2 separate regions of the Homo sapiens genome follow, and region 1 is linked to region 2. Evidence: fine-mapped expression QTL. A gene starts in region 2. The other region holds a variant in brackets. All regions are shown on one strand. Distances are between the middles of the regions. Region 1 overlaps GABRR3 (gamma-aminobutyric acid type A receptor subunit rho3). Region 2 holds the start of CRYBG3 (crystallin beta-gamma domain containing 3).

What was found. PIP is the estimated chance that this variant, and not a neighbour inherited with it, causes the effect.
Region 1: its variant is fine-mapped to the expression of CRYBG3 in whole blood (INTERVAL, PIP above 0.99). The same link has a PIP of 0.9 or more in B cells.

What each region holds. Positions count from the first base shown.
Region 1 is chr3:98,000,370-98,005,369 of GRCh38, reverse strand. It overlaps GABRR3 (gamma-aminobutyric acid type A receptor subunit rho3), which reads left to right. Exons shown (of 10, transcript NM_001105580.3): 8 at 3,603-3,755. Among named protein-coding and RNA genes, the nearest start is that of RIOX2, 30 kb to the right of the region's middle. The variant A/G (reference allele first, on the strand shown) is at 1,883.
Region 2 is chr3:97,819,376-97,824,907 of GRCh38, reverse strand. It overlaps CRYBG3 (crystallin beta-gamma domain containing 3), which reads right to left and starts at 2,897. Exons shown (of 22, transcript NM_153605.4): 1 at 2,553-2,897. The coding sequence starts at 2,701. LOC101929298 (a long non-coding RNA gene) reads left to right here and starts at 3,132. Exons shown (of 3, transcript XR_427389.3): 1 at 3,132-3,221. RefSeq lists a silencer at 2,751-3,120.

The sequences.
Region 1 (5,000 bases), 180 kb before region 2:
TACATTAATATTCTTTAAAAGCAAGTTACGGAAGAATATATTTTAAAAATCCCATATTTGTTATTGAAGAATGTATGTATACATATTTATGAGTGCATGAGTGCTTATATACATATCTGTGCATATCGTGTGTGTGTGTGTGTGTGTGTGTGTGTGTGTTAAAAGCCTAGAAAGATTAACAATAGATACCTCTGAGAAGTAGGTACAAAAAACACTTGTATTTTTTAATTTGTTACAATATACCCATTTTTTTTAATGACAGAGATTGGTAGGAAAAATGCCGAAGGGAGGCATTTTGGAAGTTGTATTCAAATATCAAATCAATAATCATATCTGGGTTCATTTAACCATCCCTTAGTTAGGTTTCGGAAAGATTACATTTAGAAACTTATTTTAGTTCATGAGCATGTGATAGCTCTGCCTCACATTATCCACGAATCATTAAACATAATCTTCTGACAAACTCAAGTGTCTTTTTCAGACTAGTTTCCTGTTTAAATATTTTAGCTTCCTCAAAAATAATTTTTGATTTGTTTTCTTCACTCCTATCCTTACAACTACCAGCCACAACCACCACTCCCAGGTGTATAGAAAAACTATACATCTGACTCTGGCTATAAGAGTCAGAAATATAGTTATAGGACCTTAGTTTCCATTTTACAGCTGAACAACAGGGTGTTTTTTTTTTTTTCTTGGCCTTCACCACTACCGTTGCCACTGTTCAAAAATCACCACGACCTGGCAATATTAACAAGCAGATGAGGGCTTCTGCCTCCTGATCCCTTTCTCAAAATTCTCAAAATCATGCACTATAAATTTACAAAGAAAAAAGAAATGACTCCTGCCCCTAAGGGATGCATTGAATAATTATTCTTTATCATAGCATAATCTAATGGCTGAATGTGTAAGTAGTAGAAACAGACTGCCTAAGTTCAAACCCTGTCTCTATCATTTATTAGCAACCTGACCTTGGACAAGTTGCTTAATCTCTCTAACCCTTAACTTTCTCATCTTTAAATGGGTTTCATAATACTCTCTATATCATAGGGTTGTGAGGATACATGATGTCATATAGTTAAGTACCTTAGAATGTTATCTGCCATATAATAGAGGCTCAATAAATATTAGTTAGTAGCTGTCATCATCACCCTATTTTCATCCACATTATTTTGATCCTTTTCATAGAGAGTATTAAGGCCTACTTTCAAAGGGCCATTGAAGGTGACTGTCTCTAGGTATAAAAACCTTCTTTATTCTTGTCTTGGGACTGACTCCCCAAATACTGGCCCAGTCCTCCATTTCCCTGGGTGCCAACTCTCTAGCCTTTTTCTCTCTGTTATTAACTCCTCTTCTTTCTACTGTATGGCAAACTAATGGAGGCAGATGTACCCGTCCCCATCCAAAATTTAGTTCAGATGCCAAAACTGATGATGCCATACACATGACAAAAGGGTATGAAGTGATTTATTACTTACATAATGAGGCTTTCTAGAGAGAGATGGGCAGGCTCCCAAGCAGGTCTGAAATGAAAAATGGCTTGAGAAAACAGGAAGGGGCTACTGGCTTGGGTTTTTATGGTAGCTAGGGGGTGCAGCTAGGGTGAAGGCTGCCTGTCGTAGGACAAGATGCATGGTTTGAACTTTTCACAGGTGCCAAAAAGAGACCTAGGCTTTTTATTAACTTGCTCAGATGTAGGGCAGAAGGAGAAGTTGGGCTTGAGAGCTTTTAGCAGTCAAACATCAAAAATAGAATCAGACTTTTTATTGTACTACCCAAAATGAAGGCTTCACAACGTTCCAAGGCAGCACCACCTTTCCTGATAGGGAAATGGACTCCCCATGACCTGCAGGTTCAACTAAAATACCACCCCTAGTCTAAAACC[A/G]CAAGACAGAGCCACAGTTTGACTTCCTGGTTACTCCACCCTGCCCCCACCCCACCAAAAAAAAAAAAAAAGGACAACTGTTCTTCAGAAAATTATGAATAAAGAAAGGATGCAGTTAACTAATTTTATTTCAAGTTAATAATGAACAGAAAACTATATACCTTAATACTGTCTTTCTTTTGAATTTCTTTCACAGGTTTTCCTTATTTCTTTTAACCTCACAGTAGTTATATAAAGTTGTAAGGTCAGAAAGCTGTTATTGTACTCTACAGCCATCACTGAAACTCTCAGTGGTACACAGTAATAAATTGGGGCTGTGATGTAGGTGATACAAGACAATGAGAAGCTTAAAAATAATTTATATTTTAACTTTATAATGTACTATGTGATGTATATTTTATTACTCCTGGTAATAAAATTGTTTGGTATTCCTGAACATATATAAACTGACTGTTAGAAGCTTAGAACTAGGTAAGGAAGAAAAAGATAATGAGTATTTCATTGAGAATAGGATTCTAAGAGTAGAGTCTGCCAGTTCAGTGTGGGTTGGCCAGGTGTATTTCTTAGGCCAAATGCCTAAGTACTTAAGTGATCCATCTAATAGGTTTGCCGTCTTGGGTTTCTAAGAAATTACTGCTGAGACTAGCAGAAGGGTTTTCCAACTCTGCAATACCTATGATTTTTATTTTATAACTTTTGACCTATAGTCCCTGTGTTTTGAATAATGTTATTTGAAAATAAACAGCATTTATCATAGAAAAAAAATCTTGCTACTTATTCAGAAAAGATGTATTTCCATGTTTCCTCATGTATTGCCTTATTTTAGTAAAGATTTAACAAGATTAGCACATAGTTATTGTGAAATAAAGCAAGGTAATATAAATTAGAAATGTATGAGAAAAAAAAGAAAAACAAGGATAAGGTATTATATATATCCTGGTATGTGTATGTGGTCATTAAAGAATGGTGCTCAGAGAAGTCCTGTAGATGTCTGAAAATTTGGCTTTAAACTTCCTTGTAGTCAATGGGAGAGGTAAACCTGAACAAAATGTGTGTGTGGATGTCACCACAAATGGTGCTTTTAATTAGCGCAGTTAATATTACCAACGTGAGTTTATATAATTTCAATAGGAAGCAAAGAAACATCAGTTGGTTACTTTTTTGCAGATTCATCATGCACAAATTATGGTACTTGTGAGACTTTAAAATTGTAAAACTAGCTTATGGATGCTGTTTTCTTTCTCCTTTGAATCCCCAGCTGTCTCCATCTCAGGTCAAAATCCAATGACCTAGTACATACTCTGAATCTTTTCATTCAGTTAAATGTTTTTTTCATTTGTTATAGCTAATAAATGGTTTATTGGTTCTTTTATGCCATTATTAGTCATGTATTGAAGACTTTCCCTCTTGCAGAAACGCCACAATACAATATATTGTGGAGACAGATCTTTAGAGGCCATCCCACAAAAGATAACCACTATTCATCCCTGAACTGCGGGTTTGGAAGTTAAAGGGGATCTTTGAGTCAAATAATTAAGCAGACTGCAGTTCAGCTGGTTGAACAAATGTTGATGGAGTGCCAGGCCCAACTAAATGGAGATGAGTTTGTCAAATTCCGTGTCCCCAAGAGCTTGGAGTCTAAAGAAGCAGGTCATTTCACTAAGTGCAGTGTTTCTAAGGGGAAGCTTGCTCTAATGAAAACTTTGGCTTTTTTCCACAGGTTGGTACAATAGGCTTTTCATCAACTTTGTGCTAAGGAGGCATGTTTTCTTCTTTGTGCTGCAAACCTATTTCCCAGCCATATTGATGGTGATGCTTTCATGGGTTTCATTTTGGATTGACCGAAGAGCTGTTCCTGCAAGAGTTTCCCTGGGTAAATCTTTCCCCATCTTTATAAAATGTTAACATGGGAGAAAGTTCAAGGGAGGTAAATAAAATGGGTCATACATGGAGAGGAAAAGAGAGTGGTGGTTTAGTAGGGATAGTCAGAGATGAACATCCAGGTTGCAGTATCGATCTTGACATCCTCAAGGGCAAATTGTAATTGAGTTCTTTCCTTGGGAACCCGGATTTTAGGGATGAAGTCTTTGCTGACTGACCTGCAGTTGGGTGATAGTAAAGAAAGGGGGTGAAATTATGAAGCATAAACAGCCTCACTTTTAAAGCTTATCTCTTTTCTTTTTTAAGAAAACCTCCCCATGCTTTATACAAGTCCATTTAGCTTTTCAGGACAAACCCTTACATCACAGAAAGGAAAACCTTCAAACTAATTCACACTATACTCTTAGTGTATTAATAACAAATTACCTTGGTGGGTTAACAAGAATGTGGAAGGGATGCTTGAATTTGAAAATATGAATACTGATTAGAAATTAGGACTTAACTAAAAGACCAAAATCAGAATCAACCACAGTGGAATTTCAGGTACAGTGGCATATTAGTTGGCAGGAGATTTTAGGTGGAGAGACGTTGCCAGCCTCATTAAGTCACTACACAGGGTTGATTATCTACACCGTCTAACATGCTATATGCCTCTGTCACACACACTGATTTATGGGAACCATTTCAGACCCACTTAGCAGTTATTGAGATCTTAGAAAGTAGAAGATACCAAGCTAAGCACTTAGATGACATGTTACTTAATGAGAACCCAAGAGATAATCCCACTTGCCTTTTTTGCTGGTCAGGGCTGATCCCCCTCATTTTATCTGATTTTGCTCTTTCATTTGTAGTGCTCTATCTAGAGAGGAGATTGTTATTATTACAATCATTGTTACAATTATTGTAATTATCACACAATTCATTCCAGAAAGGGTGGTTTGTAAGTTAATGTTCACAAATTATATGCATACTTCAAAAGATCATTTGAAAGACATAAATTATTAATATTAACAATTTGCTCACCTCCTTTCCCTATTAAAATATTCAATCTACAAGCATTTGAGACTTGAATATCTTCAAGGAAAAAATACCATCTGAATAAGTAATTAAATTATTTGAACTGTTTCTTCACATCAGAGCATGTGCCCTAACCTCAGTACTGCAGTGTGGCAGCATAGACCCAAATACAAGACCAAGGGCACATTTCCAGCCCTCTAGACACAATGAGGAAAGCACT
Region 2 (5,532 bases):
TTGTATGCTTATAAACTGGGCTTAACACTGCACCAGTGATTCTCAAACTGGGATCCACAGAACTCTGGGAGTTTTTGAGTTTCCTATGAAAACTTCAATTGCAGTTTTCCTTTTTATCATCTAAAATAAATTAATATAAGCATTTCCTGGAAATGGTCAACCACCTAATATGAGTACAATCAAGCAATTTGAGTGCCTACGCCTAAGTTGGGATATACAATAGTGTTGATGCTAATAGGCCTTCTTTAATTGTGACAAAGAAAGAATACATAATGAAGTGTTGTCACCAACTGAAGCCCATATAAATCACAGCACACCATAAAAACAAAGATTTTCCTATGGTTCAAAACAGTAAAATATTGGAAGACCTGTATCAAGGCATGGCAGCTCCCCAAAGACCTGGTGTTTGTCCCAGTACGCATTTTGTGAGCAGGCAAAAAAACAGTTTCAGGATGTTGTAAATTCGACTTTTACGGGTCTCATAATTATGTTTTAGTTTATTTTTTAATTTTGTACTCCTCTTCATCTAAAATCATCACTACAGAAGGTATACCCAGCTCTCATAATGATAAAAGTTTTTATGCCCACAAAGAGAAATAGCCAAAATACTCTTTCATTTTGAAATAAGATCACAGTGACAAATTGCAATTCTGTTTCCAATCTTGTTAACATCAGGGTGTTGTGTTACTGGGACATTCAGTACTATAAAGCGGTTCCATTTGTTTTATTAAACTTTCAATAAAGGCTTTGTGTTTGTTTATGCCCTTGAAATGAAAGATTTAAGCTCATTTAAAACAGTAAAACACCCACATAAAGGGTCATCTGCTATCCCCCTAACATCTGGCAAGTTCCAAAAAAGATGAGAACAAAATTAGCGTTGATATAAGCACAATTAAAATCTTCATCGTTGAAAAGCCATAATTTGTGCCAATCTGGAGATGATGAGAATAGAGAAGTGGTAGGTGAACAAGGAACTAGTTGCTGGAGGGGTCAGCTCCAGTCAGTAAAGAAATTAGAATTGAGAAGTGCCTTAAAAAGCCAAAATAGGGCAGAGAGGCAAGCAGGATTTCAGGCCATTACTGACATGAGCCTGAATTTGACCTGCTTACTCCTTTCTAACACTGACTCTCAAGTTCCCAACTTTTGCTGCGCCTACTTGGGATTTCCTTGCAGACTGCGTTCATATTATCCAAGACTGTTAGTGCTGTTACGGCGGTGGCAGGCACCACAGGCTGTCTGCCCACACCAACAGAACTAGCTGACACCCTGGATGAGATCTGTCAGACTTAAAAACTATTTTTAACTTCTGTGTAACTTTGAATTTTAAACTCTCAACAGTCAGAGCAATAATAGCTGAAACGTCCCAGGAGAATAACCACTCAATTATCGTAGGAGCTTTCTTGGAAACATGTGGCATGTTATTAACAGACGGTCATAATGAAAATGTTTCACAAGCGGGGAAACCGAGGAACACACAAACGACTAAAATCACATCACAAAATCTGAATACTAATGGAATTGGCTCACTCTCAGTTCTGTTTCCTATCCATTTTTTTTAAGCCCACCAGGAAATCTTGAGTCCGAAGTAAACACGGTTTTCTGGAGTGTGTCCTTCCAATGACAATGGTCATTCTAGTGCAATCTCGGGAGAAGACAGTGTAAGCCTCTCATAAGTTTAAGAAAGCGAGCTGCGTTTTACTTAACCCCTCTTTCTTCGGGGGGATGAAAAGACTCAGAAACAGGCATTTAAATGAGGCATGTCTAAAATTTTTTGATTTTTGAACATGGGAAAGTGAAGGAAAGATAAAAATATTACAGAGAAAGGGTACATTTTGATTACTGAAACCAAGACAGCTGGAAACCTGATTTCCAGAATCTGTTTGGGAACTTGAGGCAGATGTTTCTAGGAGAGATGAGAAATAAAGAAGGGTGGCGTCATTTACATGTCCAGTCCATTTTGGTGAAAGTCTTGGGAACGCATTATCACAATTCCTTTTAAAAATCATTTTGAGAAAATTTAAATAAGATGGCAAAAATACCAGCTGAGGGGGTGACGCCCCAAAGCTTTACCTTTTCCACTTTTGCCCCGATCTCCTCCCACACAAGTGGTGCTGGGATCGCGCCCCCAATTCCCCTGGCCGACGGCTCCGCTCGGCTCACAAGTGTTTCCCATTACTGCAGGCGGGACGCCGGGGAAATCGCTTTTGCCACAGAACTTGGAGAGTAGAGCGTGTGTGGAACGGGAACCCAATCACGTCCGGGCAGGGGAAAGTGGGAAAGGAAGAGCGCGGAGCCAGGCGGGGATCGGGGGATATGCGTCCGGCTGCCGGGCAAGAACTTCACCCCGATTTAACCTGCAGAGGAGAGGCGAGTAGTGCGGCACGGGAACGGGGCAAGGAGGAGGAAACTTTAGCAATGGAGGAAGGAGAACAGAAAGTGGCGAGCGAACTGCAGCCTGGCCCAAGAGCGGCCCGCTGCCGGCGGTCAGGCCGGGAGCCTTCATCCCGCGAATATGTGCAGGGCCCCCCCGCGACCCCCTCCTCGACTCCCACCTGGCAGCGGACCGGCCTGGAGCTGGAGGCGGGCTCGTCCCCGGCCTCTCCTCCTCTTCCTCTTCCTTGTCCCGGGAAGGACTTCGGGGAGCGAAGAACCGGGAGAAGCTGTGCCAGGGGGCGCTGCCCCTTCTGCGGCCGCTGGACATTTCCCGAGGGGGCCGCTGGCCCGGGGCTGTCTGAAGGGAACGGCCTAGGTGTTGCCTGGTGCCCGGAGCCCGACCGGGCGCCGCGGGATGCGGCTAGGGCAGACCGACTCGACGCGAGCTGCCAGCGCGGCTCAGTCTCTCTCGGGCAGGAGAAGTGCGGACGCGACGCGCTCCTCGCGCGGCAGCTCCTCACGCCGCTGCGGCTGCTCCTCCTCCCGCCCTCGCCCGGCGCGGCCCGCCCCACCCCGAGGAGGAGCCAGTGGCCGCGGCACCGCCCTGAGCCGGGCGCAGCCGCCACCGCTGGGGCGCTACGTGGTCCCCCGAAGGCGCCGGCCTGAGAGCCTGAGGGGAGTCGCCCAGCGTGCGACGCTAGGCTCGGGCTTACGGCTCAAACAAGTTCAGGCTGCAGCCTGTTGGGCTTTGCCTTCAATTACTTTCTGTGACCGTTGTGTTTTCTATTCTACAGTCAGAGCACAGAAACGGTTTTCTTCGGGCTTTTGAAAGAGGTTTATGAACTAAGGTTTGTGAAAACACTTGGCAAACTGCAGTACCGGGGCGCCCCGGACTTGCTGGGAGCTAAGAAACAGCTACCGCAAATACAGCTCCAACCCTGAGGGCGAAAGTCGCGTTAGCACAGAACCGGGCGGCGGGAGGGAGAAGGGGGTACCTGTCAGGCGGTCACCACCTCCCGGCGCGTTCTGCTGGCTTTCTGTGGTGTGACTTTTCCTAACCGCGCTGTGCTTCAGACTTTTCACACGCCATACTTCCCTGCGAACTCTTTCAAAAACGGCACTGATCAAAAAGTATGATTTCAAGCTTGTCAATGCTGCAACATATTTTGCAGTCGTTACACAGATGCCACTGAAATCTGGGAACCAAAGGGTGCTTAAGACTTGTTTTAAGTCTAAGTACAGTGGTATGGATTTTTCTTGGTTTTTCATACCCTATAGCAGCTAGTACAGGAGATACTGAGAGGCCCATTCACCCCAAGTGTTTTGTTTTTGTTTGAAGGCAAGCTGCCCCTGGAGTAGACGTCAAGGAAGTGATATGGCTTTTGTTCATTAAAAAATGTATACAAGTAAATGAGATAAAAATGAAATGTCCACAGCAGAGGGGAGCCTTGGAGTAATCTCCCCTCTGGCTTTCGGGTGCTGGAGGAGAAGGTTGCTCATAAGTAGATTGCATACCTATAAGCCCCAAGTCCTTTCAGCACCTGCTGGAGGCTATTGAGCCTCCCTGCCTCCCCACGCTGCCTCCCAGAAGCCCTCCAGCTCCTACTAACTGCAATAGAGCCAAGACACTCATTCTCATTTGTTCTGGCAGGATTTAACCCATTAAAGTTCAGTCAGCCCGATTTCCATCAATCGGGTTCATCTCAGTCTATCCCTCAAGATTAATCCTTTTTTACTCTTTGGTAAATTTTTCCTATTTCTCTGTGAGCCTAGTCTGAGAAAATAGAAAAAGACTAAGATAATAGACTAGAATAAGACAAGTTCCCAATTCTAGCTTTATTATTTTATAAGAGAATCTCCACTGAAGACCCACTTACCAAAAAGCCCAAAGAGAGTAATAAAGCAAACTGTTTCTTCCAGCTAAAAGGCCCAAATGATAATTTGTCTTCCCAACGTATTATTGAATGACTATCACATTTGTCCCTGACTTGTTCTGTGATCAAACCAGGCCCCAGTGCCTACCCAGAGGGTACTTCGTTCAGGAAGTTTTTCTTGGAATAAAAATGGGGGGGAGTCAATAGGATTTAATTAATGAATTATGGTTTTAACTAATAATATATCTAACAATACTCTGATCTCCACTCGGTAGCACAGCAAAGCACTTAAGTGAATGGTAAATACAAATAATGCCATGTTTACACTAAGACAAATTGCGTCTATGACAAAATAGCTTAAAGTCATAAAACAATGACCATTGAATTTTCCTTCATTTGCTTTCTGAGCACTTATTAGTTTTCTATATGTCCTACATTGTTATAACCTGAACTCATATGAACAAATTTCTAAATACTAAATTCTAAGATTGCATTAGGAAGCCTGTAAAAATGTCAAATTTTAGAGCTGTAAGGATCTTAGAGATACTAATTTAGCACAGTGTCATTAATTCACTGATCCAGTTATTCCCCGACGTTTAGTGAGTGCCTGCAGTAGAAGCACATCTACAGTGAAGCCGATGAGGCTCAAGTTTCTTGGCTCCCTGCTGGCACAGTCTCTTCCAGTGTGAACTCAGCAATGGGATCCATGGCCAGTTTTATCAAATTTACAAAAGTAAATGTTTTAATGTGATTAAGACCACAATCTCTTTTTTTTTCCACTTAGATGTCCACTTAGATTTTCTTTTCCACTTAGAGTTATCAAGAGCATTTGGGAATCTGCTAGGGAATTTCAGTTGGGAATATATTTAGTTTGGACTTAGTGGAATATATTTATGTGGTTTCCAGCCTCTCCAAAGTATAGTTATTTCTTAAATTCCAATTTGTTTGTAGCGCAGCTCACCAAGTATTACACCCAAGATGCAGAGCCAGAGGAGATATATTCTGTGGTCTCTGACACTGAAAATATGTGGGTAATAGAGGTGAGACAAGATTTGAAAGGTAAAGCAGCATCAGGTGTCATGTGGAAAATTATTCCAGGCATCAGAAGACAAAGTTTCAACAGGAAGGATTGCCTCCGATTGATGTAATTTCTCTCATAGCAATAATATATTCAATAATGCAGTATATTTAATTTTTTTTTTGAGACAGAGTCTGGCGCTGTCACCTTGGCTGGGGTGCAGTGGTGCAATTTCAACTCACTGAAACCTCCGCCTCCTGGGTTCAA